3 linked regions of the Homo sapiens genome follow. The protein of the gene in region 1 interacts with the protein of each later gene in a pairwise test. Each region holds a gene or a part of one and is shown in the gene's direction. Other genes may lie near its edges.

Region 1 (3,749 bases):
GACCTTTTCCCCTTTAGGCGTTTACTGAAGCATTTGAAAGGGAACTAAGAAGACATAAAGTTCAAGAGAATATTGGACCTCTAAGAATACATGAGAAGGAGGAGGAAACAGTGGGTAAAAGTCTCCACTGTAATAAATGCCATTTGATCAGATGAGTGGGAAGTACAAAGATGATCTTTTTAAAAGAAGAAGGGGCCAACAGGGCCTTAATCATGAGCTCTTTAGGAAAAGGCAGGATTTCATGTCATGATACAGGACTTGCTTATTAATAAGGCATTCAGGTTGCTAAAATATGACGAGACATGGTTCCAAAGAAAAGTAGTGTTTTTCCGCTACTTAAAACTTCCCATCAGTTTTTAAGGGTTTATTTGACTTAGCAGTTCACCAGGGGCTTAAAAACTACTCTAGGCTGACAAAATTAAAGAAGAGTAAGAGAAGACAGAACATCCTAGTTGGCTATAGACCTGGTTGTAAGAAACCCAAAACAGAAGTTTTCATTGCCTTTCAAAAGAATGGTTACAGAAACTAAGTGAAATCATGGGGAAAATGCTTATGCTAAAATATTCATGAACAAAACAGGATATAAAGTACAGTATGGTTACAACTAAGCATACTGCATAGTTGCCTGAGAATTTTTTAAATCTACATGGAAAAAGAGAAGTACATTGAAACATTAATGGTTAAAAAAAAGATTAATAGTGGTTGTATTTAGGGTGTGGGACTATGGTGACTGAAACTTGAAAAAGATTCAGTGCTTTTTCAAATTCCAAGGGATGCCAGAGGCCAAAAGGTGCATTTAACTTAGAGTAAATGAATATTAACCAGATTTTACAAATTTGAAGTAAGGTGGTTTGGCTTACTGTTAGCTAAAAAACTAAAAAACTACCGTTAGCTGTTTTTGTCAGTATGTAATATTTAAGATGATGTATGAAAGAACTGTTAGACCTTTTATTTTTATTCTGTTTTATATCTGCTTCTAAGGAAAAAATATACAGAGGAGAAGCTGTTCGTAAAGGAACTCCAGAATGTAGTCAGCCCTGGAAGATTTACTCTAGAAAAACCACAACGCAGAGTCTAAGAGGTGGCCTCCCAAAGCCAAATAAAGCAGTTCCAAGTAAGAACCACAGAATTGTACTTTATGGAAAACTGGCAACCTTTGAAAGCATGTGCAACATTCCAAGGACACAGCACTGAAAGCTAACATCCACCAGTTAGCCGAAGAAAGTTTTTTTTTTTTCCCAATCACTGCCATGTGGCTGGTTTTCCGTAGAGGGCTAAAACTCTTCAATAAGGAAGTACTTCAGGGAGGCCTATATATTGGCACCCAAGGAATGCCAGGACTGCCACCTGCTGCTCCAGCGTTAGCCTCACTCGTGTGCTTACTCACTTTGACTGCCTTTTTGTCTATTTCTGGGAGGTTGGTAGAATGAAAGGGATGCTCCAAGGCAAGCAGATGGCCTGTCCACCTCCTATATATTGACAGTGCCAATGAGTGTAGAGTCTTGTTACAAGAAACAAAGTCATGAGAAATGCCAGGCTTCCTGTTACACCCAAAGACTGCTGGCCCTCCTACTCTATCCTTTAGACCAGAAACTTTTTCTTCTAAGCACTTGCCTACCGGGAAGGTTGAGGAGTCTTGTTTTACCGTACGTAGAGAATCTACCCACAGGCACTGAAGCGGCTGAGCAATTAGGATGGACTTCCCAGGACCAGCATGGCATCAATCCAGAACTATTGAGCTTATTTTTATCCTTACCAGTAGTTGGCTTACTCCAATCAGAGGAGTAATGCAAATTATTATAAGTACATTTAGAATTGTTCTTTTCAGGATCAAAACCACATCACTTACATAAGCTTTGATCTACCAGGGATGTTGGATGACAGTTCTTGTCCACGTCTCAGATTAAGAACATCTTATTTTACCTTGCAGTGAAAGTAAGTGAACACAGTCTCCTGCCCCTTATGCTGGAGCAGTTTCCGTTTCTTTATGTTTCTGGCCCAACACTAAGCAAAATGTGGAAACAGCAAATTGCACAGGTTGAACAGCTTAAGAAAGAAGCATGTAGAGAAAATCGATCAAAGAAGAAACTCCAAGATGAAGTAAGTTACTGTCAGTCTTAAGCATAGGAATTTAAATGAGAAGAGCTTATCCTTAAGAATTTAGTGAACAGCATTATTAACCTACTTAACTTCATGTCCCCCTTCAAGATAGAAGAAGCCCTAAGAAGGCATGACCTCCTTACTACCCTTGTCAAGAAAGAATATGAACATAACAAGAGACTGGTATGTCAAGAGCAAGTTGGGTATTATAATTCTGAATTTGTTATATTCATTCCCTTTATCTGTGCTAGCTGGGCAACAGTTGCACAGACCCTTAACCTCTTAACACCTGCATGTGGAAGTGTTGCCTAGGTCTTTAACCAAAATTGATAGCCCATGCCTGTAATCCCAGCACTTTGGGAGGCTGAGGTGAGAGGATCACTTGAGACCAGCCTCAGCAACATAGTGGGACCCTGTCATTAAAAATATATATATGGGTGTGGAAAAAATGAGCCTGGCATGGTGGCATTTGCCTGTGGTCCCAGCTACTTGGGAGGCTGAAGTGGGAGGATCACTTGAACGTGGGAGGGCGAGGCTGCAGTGAGCTATGATCTTGCCACTGCACTCCAGCCTGGGTGCCAGAGTGAGACCCTGTCTCAACAACAACAAAACACACAAACCCAAAATGGGCAGGAGGAAGAGCTAGGTACTTTATATACACAGTTTCAGTTAGTCTTCATAGTAATGTATTAGAGATGTTTTCTATGAAATGAAAACCCTGAAGCTTTGAGATACTAAGTAACTTGCCCTGGGTCTCACTGATAAGCAAGGGACACAGCTGAGATTTTAATCCAGTTCTGTCTGTGGACTCCATGGACCCATCTAGGTGCCAAGCAGCTGAACTTAGTGCTGTTTGCCCTCTCCCATCCTTCTCAGGTCCCAAGTAGAGAGCTCCAGGATTTATCAGCCTCCGTTATAATTTTGACTAGGAATTGTGCTTAGAGAATTACGAAGGGAGAGGATGGAGGTCAGAAACAATCTGCCAAAGGGAGAGATTTAAAAATCTTTGCCTGAGTGTGGAGTAGAGATAAGCCATGAGAACTGTAATACTGAACAGTTCCAGGAAGACATCTCAGGAACTGCAGATGGTACTTTCCTGTGGAGGGAAAAAACACTAGTATCTGAAACACCTACATAAGAGGCTTTATGTACATGACCCCATTTTATTTTCACTCCTTTGTCAGATACTGTCTAATTTCCTTAGTTTTTGCCTAAATGCTCCTGGCAGCTCAGGCTCTGCTTGAAAGTCTGGGTGTGCCATTTTCCTACTCCTTGTGAGGTGGCATCTGGGCCAGCCTTGTTAGCAGCTTCCTGGTGGCATGGGGAGTGAGCCCTCAGTTCCACAGGAGTGCCCAGGATCACTGCTGCCCTCTGCTGCAGTGGGGTGTTATTGGAGCTGCTCTTCAGATTGAGGTGATAAAGCTGCCAAAGGCTGAAGGGCTTCTGGGGCCACTGGCCCCCCACACGTGACATACTGCCTGAAGACATCGTGATGGGGAGTGAGGCAGATGAGAACGCTGGAATCTGCATTCCTCTTGTCCTTACCCTTCTCTTCCCTCCCCTTTCCCTTTCTTAGCAAGACTTCAAGGACTGCATTCGTAGGCAAAGGTTGACCCAATCAAAGATAAAAGAAAATCGACAGCAAATCG
Region 2 (3,749 bases), on another chromosome or scaffold:
CTGCTGCTGCTTATGAAGGGAACAGCTTGTAAATCTAGGCCTGGGATATTCAGGAGCTCATCATCCTTCCCATTTTCGTACAGTGTTTTCAATTAGCACTCTTGTAGGCTTGAAAAGTGAGAGCTGGGAGAAACAGTGTGGAAGATTGTGAAAGAAAACATTAATTGATAACATCGTGTCTCTTCACATAGATACAGGGCAGCTAATTAAGTATTGACCCAAAAGTGGTTTTCCATTTTGAGCATTTTGCCAGTAAGACTCTCCTAAAGCTTTTTTCATCTCAAGAGTATAAACTATATTATTTGTTTTCTGATGAGTCTTTGAAAACTTAGAATATTACTATTATCCTTGATTTTAACCTACAAATATTTTGCCCCTGAAAAAATAGCTAAAAGTGTGAACTGTTATATTACTACAGATTCTTACAGTCTAGCCATGCAAACATAACTAACAATAGATGGTTCCCCACACCCCCAAAACTGTCAAAGGAAACAATTACAAAGACTGTGATTAATACTGGTTTGGCCTCATTATACAAATATGTACAGACAGCGAGGCTGATGTCCCCAGCACTCATGATGCAATTAATTACTCTGACAAGAGTTTGGCAAAGTTTTCATCCACTGTCAGGAGCCAGTGAGTGAAGGGAAGCTAATGGTCTACAAGTTTCAGAGGAGCATATTAGGGACCTTTAGAAATCTAACATTTTATATATGAAGAAACTGAATCCCAGAGAGGAGAAACATCTTGCTTGAAAATATCTGCGTAGATGAGTACAGAATCCAAGACTAGAACCACAGATATCTAAACTCTCTCATTCACTGGGTTTCTAAAACATTGCTCTAAGGAAGAGGTGGATGGGGGAAGGGGAAAGCACTAAAAAATCCTGAAATAGAGCATTAAGATACATAGGAAGTAAACAGATAAAAATTGTAATCCAGGAATTATAATGTTATAGAATTTTAGCTCATTTTAAAATTATTTTGATAAATATACAGTGGAAGAATTACCCTACCTGTCTGTCACCTTTCTTGTAGCTGAGTAGTACCTAGAGACAAGTGGAGCTAGGAGGAGGCCATGAGGGTGATTTTAAGTTGAAAGGTGACTACCTTATATAAACTATTAAAATGCATATGTTGCCTGATTTCAATGATAATATTTGGCTGTTTGAGTTTAGGGAAAAAAAATCTTATGTGACTGTATTTTTATTAATATGAGAAATGTTCTTGATTATATGCACATAATACATCTCTATACATGCAGATATCCTTAGTTAACACTTGAAGAAAATTGGTTTTGATTGACCATACATTCTTCAGACTAAAGTAGGGTACTCATTTTCCCTCCTCAGGTTTGTCCCTGATAGTTGCTTTTCTGTGTTTAGCTGATGATTTTCCTACCTCCCATTGTTGCTGAACTGGAACAGGGCCATGTTTCTCATTGAAATGTTATGTAAAACATCTCAATGAGGTTGCCTGCTTACAGCTTTATGAGTTCTTCAGTTTACATACACCCTGCACTCACTTTAACGCTTATGAAACCAAAGCATTTTTAAAATCCATAGCGCTAACCCCTTCCATTCAATACTTACTTTCTTGGTGTTATTTTCCTTGTTTGTTTTTGTTTTTGTTTTGTTTTGTTTTCCTGATTCTACAGGTCTTAGAACTCCAAGATGTTCCATAAGTGTTTTTACTTGTGAGGAATGAGAAGCCATCCATGGAAATTTGAACTGAGTGGGGGCAGAGAAAGAGTGCAGATCCCTTTGCTTGTGAAAGAATTATCAGTGAGTGAAAGGCCATCACCCCAGGAAGCCAAATGAGGGAGCAGCAACATGTATATGAGCTTCCTATGGAATTGTCCTTATGTGAAGCTTTGAAGGTGTACAGCCACTCTCCCGGGTCTTCAGGTTCCTACCATTTCCATTTCTGTTAAAGTGGATCTGCATATCTTCAGCTTACTAGGTGACCCGGATGCTGACATCTGCTGCTGCAGAAAGGAAGACTTTTCATTGTAATTTCGCTTAGACCCTTTTATCAGTGGAGCTCCAGTTTTCTTACCTAGCTGTCACTTTTTTAAATGCCTCTGGGGGTTATTTTTGCTTTCCTTGGCCCCCACCAATTTATACATCTCCATTTTCTGACCTCTGGACTAACTGGTTGCTCAGCAAGGTTCTGAAGGAGAGTTTCTTGCATTGGACAGGCCCAGTCTTCTCCCATCATTGCCCTGCTGTGACTCCAAAGAAAGGAGCTTCTTGCTGACAGTGCCCTGTGGAGCAAGGCTGTGTTTCCTACCCCACACGGTGCTCAGTGGGTGCCAGCCCTCAGTGTGGCTTTGTGATTGCTGCCCTAAAGGAGAATGCTCTTTCCTTCCTCACTGGTACTGCCTGCTGTTTTCTAAGCATTGCTCCTGCACAGACATGGAGTCCCAGCCCCAGCAAGGCTCTTCTGTTCCCATCTGTTGACAATGTCTTGTGGAGCATTTTTGCTGAGGAAAAGGTCACTTGTAAACAGAGGAGAAAGGGAAAGAGTACAAAGCCCTAAGTTTATTGTAAGTGAAAACTGAGGGAATTCCTGTCTTCTTTAGGAGTAATGATTCATAGATCTAGATAGGTGGAAATATCATTCAAAATAGTCACTTGAGCTCACAAAAAAAGCAAGGAAGAATTCTCATGTCCTTTGTCTTCCTTCTGTAGCCATTAACTGCTGAATCCATGTGAGGAAGACAGGCTTCCCTTCCTTCCCCCTCCTTAGTGATTTTTTCTTTAACAGCATAAGTAAAGAGGACTTTCTGGTTCATTTTTGTTTGTTTTGTTTTGTTTTGTTTTGTTTACAGATGAGGTCTTCCTGTGTTGCCCAGGCTGGAGTGCGGTGGCTATTCACAGATGCTATCATAGCACACTACAGCCTACAACTCTTGGGCTCAAGCATCACGCCTAGCAGTTTCTGGTTCCTTTAACAGCAAAAGGAAAGAGAGGTTCTGATTCTTACCTCAGGGTTTTTTGGTTGTTCATTGTTTTTGTTTTTGTTTTTGTTTTGACACTGCAGAGCACAAGGCTAAAGGTTACAGCTGAGATCTTTGGAACCAAAGGCAGAGCAAGCAGAGCCCGTTGTCTGGGCCCCACACCACTGCAGGCAGGTGGATAGAAGTGCGGCCCCTCTCATAGTATGCCCATAAGTCAGGGCATAGGGCAGAACTACCTGTCATGTTGCTACACCATCCTGTCTTCTCAGCATCTCCTTGCCTGTTTTCTTTATTAGTCCAAAGGAAAACAACAGCAACAAAATCTGTTTTTAAAATGTCTTATATGAACATATATCAAATATCCATGCGCTGAAACCCACATACCATCACTTGGCAATTTTTTAGAATAAGACCCCATTATTATCTATTGCTATAAACCTAGCCAGTTCTCTTGCTCTTCTGTATTTTCCTATTTCCCTGCCATCATCTGCTATTTCTGCCACTTCTCTTAGACTCCTTGTCTGCAAAGCCCAAGCTAGAACTCACTGTCTATGGCAGAAGGACATCCAGAGCCCATTCTGGAGTTTTGTTTTTTCCTTCTGCCAGATGCTTTGTGTCCTGTCTTCCTTCCTCCTCATATTTCTGTTTCTCATTTGTGTTCAGTTTTGTGCAGCATTGCTAGCACTGCTTTTGTGACCAGAAAAGGCCATAACATGGTCCAGGATCATCATTCTTCTGACTCTAGATGGGACACTTGACAGTGACTTGAAACATTTGCATATTCAGGA
Region 3 (3,749 bases), on another chromosome or scaffold:
CTGCATGCACCTCAGAGCCAGTACCAAGAACTAGCAGTAGCCCTGGATTCAAGCTCCGCAATAATCAGTCAACTCACTGAAAACATCAATTCACTGGTAAGAGTCCAGTGGGGTCCCCTGATTACAGCTGGTCAATCCTGGACTCCAGTTTCCTCTTGGGGCCCTGAAGAAAGGGGCTAGGGGCCCCTGATGCCAAGGGCAAATGGGGAGCTGGGCACCCAGGTCTCACCTGGAGGGACCCCAGAGCACAGAACATGCAGCATGGCTCTTCTGCACTGCCCTCTTTGCTGACTCTCTCTTCTCCAGACACCCCTGCTCTAGTCCTTGCCACACATGCCCTGGGGTTGTCACCTCTCTGGGAAGCACTAGCCTGACTGGTTGTCAGAGGTCCATATTCCTGCCCTGCCTCAGTCCCTAATTTGCTTTTTGAGTCTGGACAAGCCATCTCTCCTCTTTATGCTCGTGTTTCTGGAGGAGGTAGAGAGTATCAAAGGTCTCGGTTAGCTCTGAAAGTCAGAGATTTAAAGGCCCCTAGAATGGAAAGCTCAGGGCGAAGGGCTCCTGTCTGTCCTTTGCTGTTTTATATCTCTGCTATGAAGAACTGTACCTGGCCTGTACATGCTCAGTAAATGTTTGTTGAATGAATGCACGTTTCTAAATCACAAACTGGCAGAAGGGGGGTGGGCCTTTCTCAAACTCTGTCTCTGGACGTTCACCAGCCCCTCCCTCCAGTACCCTTTTCCCCCTTTGCTTTGGGCAGGTTCGCACATCTAAGGAGGAGAAGAAGCATGAGATACATCTGGTACAGAAGCTTGGGAGGAGCTTGTTCAAACTCAAAAACCAGACGGGTAAGATGGGGCTGGCATGACCTGGCAGCTGGACTGGCATTAGAGGGCTGTGGGGGTGACTTAGAATGCCCCAGGGAGGTGGGTGGATGGAAGGGCTTTGAGGCAGAGGGAAAGAGGTCTGTGCCAGGGGAGGACAAGTCTTGTCATCTCCATGAGCCTCAGTGTCCCCATCAGTAAAGAGGGAGGAGTGCCCATTGTCAGCCACCCACAGTGCTCTCTATCTGAAAGTGACTTGGAAGATTGTCTACCATCCGGGTGTGAGGAGTCATTAGCAGTGAGGCCAAGTTTGGGAAGCCTGAGAGGAGGAGCTGTGCACCAAAGGGAGGATTTTTTTTTTTTTTTTTTGAGAATCCAGAGGCCCTTATTCTCTGCTTGCTTTCTCAGCTGAACCCCTGGCCCCACAGCCCCCAGCAGGGCCATCTAAGATGGAGCAGCTACAAGATGAGACCAACCACCTAAGGAAGGAGCTAGAGAGTGTGGGAAGACAGCTCCAGGCTGAGGTGGAAAACAATCAGATGTTGAGTCTCCTGAACAGGAGACAGGAGGAGAGGCTACGTGAACAGGAGGAGAGGCTACGTGAACAGGAGGAGAGGCTGTGTGAACAGGAGGAGAGGCTGTGTGAACAGGAGGAGAGGCTACGTGAACAGGAGGAGAGGCTGTGTGAACAGGAGAAGCTGCCAGGGCAGGAGAGGCTGCTGGAAGAGGTGGAGAAGCTGTTAGAACAGGAGAGGCGGCAGGAGGAGCAGGAGAGGCTGCTGGAGAGGGAGAGGCTGCTGGACGAGGTGGAGGAGCTCCTGGAGCAGGAGAGGCTTCGGCAACAGGATGAGAGGCTGTGGCAGCAGGAGACTCTGCGGGAGCTGGAGAGGCTGCGGGAGCTGGAGAGGATGCTGGAGCTGGGGTGGGAAGCCCTGTACGAGCAGCGGGCCGAGCCACGCAGCGGCTTCGAGGAGCTGGTGCGTTGCCCCACCTGGGGAGGCTGCCCTCTTCCCTAGCCCTCAAGGCCTTTGTTTCCCCACCTGTAAAATGGGGCATTGTAGCCTTCACATGAAATGGTACTTCTAAAGGCATCTGTGAGCCAGAGCCCTGCTCTGATGGCTGTGGGAGAGAGGGGATATTTTTCTAACCTGCCTCCACCCTTCCCGGTGCCATGGGAGGCAGACACTAAGTTCTGGGGTCTCCAGTTTTAGTGGGTGGCCACTGATTGCTTCTTTCTGTCCAGAACAACGAGAACAAGAGCACACTGCAGTTGGAGCAGCAAGTAAAGGAGCTGGAGAAGTCGGGTGAGCTGAAAGAGACTGTAACCTCCGACCCATCCAAGAAGATGTGGGAGGCGGGCACCAGCCTCTGGGGAGGGGAGGTGCCAGGCCACAGGCAGCTGCAGCCTGGGGACAGGTGACCCCAGCACCCTCCGGGGCAGTCCTATGACTGTTTCTTGCTTCCTGCCCTCTGACTTTTAGAGGTGGGTAGCCCTGGGGTCCTCCCAGGTCTGGACATCATCATCCCAGCTAGAGGCATGGAGCCCCCCAATCACAGAGGAAGAGACAGTGGTATAAGAGGCTCCTTATGTCGGGTGTGGTGGCTCATGCCTGCAATCCCAGCACTTTGGGAGGCTGAGGCAGGACAATCACTTGAGGTCAGGAGTTTGAGACCAACATGGCCAACATGGTGAAAGCTCATCTCTACTAAAATTAAAAATAATAATAATAATTAGCCAGGCCTGGTGGTGCATGCCTGTAATCCCAGCTACTCAGGAGGCTGAGACACGAGAATCACTTGAGCCCGGGAGATGAAGGTTGCAGTGAGCTGAGATTGCACCACTGCACTGCAGCCTGGGACACAGAGTGACACTCTCTCAAAACAAAACAAAACAGAAAAACAAAAAAGCCTCCTTAGATTCAAACTGGATTCCGGCCTCGGTTCCACTGGTCATAATTCAACTACTTTGCATCTCTAAGTCTCTGTTTCTTTAACTTCAAAAGGAAGTTAGCCTTTTCCTTGCAGAGGTGCTGAGGATTAAATGAGGTAATACGTGGAAACATTAGGCATGTAGCACACTTAGCAGATGGTGGTTGGCTCCGCCTGCTTTTCCACCAGTCTGTGGCCTACAGTTTACATGCTGGGAAAAAGGACGTGAGATTTGATGCTAGGGAAGGAGGCATGGGGTTCTAAGCAAGGGAGACAGTCTCTTAGGCCTGGAGCAAGGGGCCAGGGGCCTGGGCAGGCCACAGAGCCCCACAGTGCCCTCGCTACCCTATTAATGGGCCAGGAATCTGGAAGCCAGCCACCACATGTCCTCATGCCCAGGGTCTTCCGGCAGGTGGAGCTGAAGAGCCAAGAGGCTCCGAGTCTGCAGCAGCAGCCAGACCAGTAGCTGGAGCCCCAGTCCCACAAGGAGCTTGGATGTGCGGACAAGCAGGGTGGTGAGTAGAGCCCTCAGGCGGGGTGGGCAGGCAGGAGCAGGGGAGGCTCGCACTGTGCCCAGATTCCCACCCCCTCCCTCTCTCTGAAGATCTTAGTGAGCTGAGCCTCACTGATAGCATGGAGGCTGCACCGGGAGAGGACAGGGAGGGTTCTCCCCCATGACAACCCCACTGCACAGCAGATCCAGCAGCTGCTTCCTCTAATGCAGGACTCCCCAGGAGCACCCAGGCTTGAGTGGAGAAGCTGTTGGTACAGGAGAGGCGGCAGGAGGAGCAGGAGAGGCTGCATGCCATTCTTTTCGGGCTGCCGAGAACAGGGAGCTAAACATCACCATCATCTAAGAGCGGGTCAAGAAATTGAAAAAAAAAAACAAAACATTTAAGGGGTTAATATCCTACACAATTCATTTACTTCATTTGAATGTTAGAGCCACTTATGTTTGTGTTTCTAATTTATAGTTTAAATTTATTTGTGTTTCTA

Evidence for each region.
Region 2: the proteins of CEP95 (region 1) and HMG20A interact in binary tests that used the Homo sapiens proteins (3 or more experiments, as listed by UniProt).
Region 3: the proteins of CEP95 (region 1) and GOLGA6L9 interact in binary tests that used the Homo sapiens proteins (3 or more experiments, as listed by UniProt).

What each region holds. Positions count from the first base shown.
Region 1 is NC_000017.11:64,530,909-64,534,657, forward strand, and holds part of CEP95 (centrosomal protein of 95 kDa), read left to right. Parts: intron 1-17; coding exon 18-110; coding exon of another isoform or gene 111-114; exon of another isoform or gene 115-981; coding exon 982-1,114; exon of another isoform or gene 1,115-1,930; coding exon 1,931-2,100; intron 2,101-2,208; coding exon 2,209-2,283; intron 2,284-3,676; coding exon 3,677-3,749.
Region 2 is NC_000015.10:77,481,314-77,485,062, forward strand, and holds part of HMG20A (high mobility group protein 20A), read left to right. Parts: exon of another isoform or gene 1-1,656; 3' UTR 1,657-3,749. UniProt on the Homo sapiens protein: Plays a role in neuronal differentiation as chromatin-associated protein. Acts as inhibitor of HMG20B. Overcomes the repressive effects of the neuronal silencer REST and induces the activation of neuronal-specific genes.
Region 3 is NC_000015.10:82,432,802-82,436,550, forward strand, and holds part of GOLGA6L9 (golgin subfamily A member 6-like protein 9), read left to right. Parts: exon of another isoform or gene 1-15; coding exon 16-96; intron 97-760; coding exon 761-848; intron 849-1,232; coding exon 1,233-1,801; intron 1,802-2,067; coding exon 2,068-2,128; intron 2,129-3,165; coding exon 3,166-3,268; intron 3,269-3,477; coding exon 3,478-3,610; 3' UTR 3,611-3,749.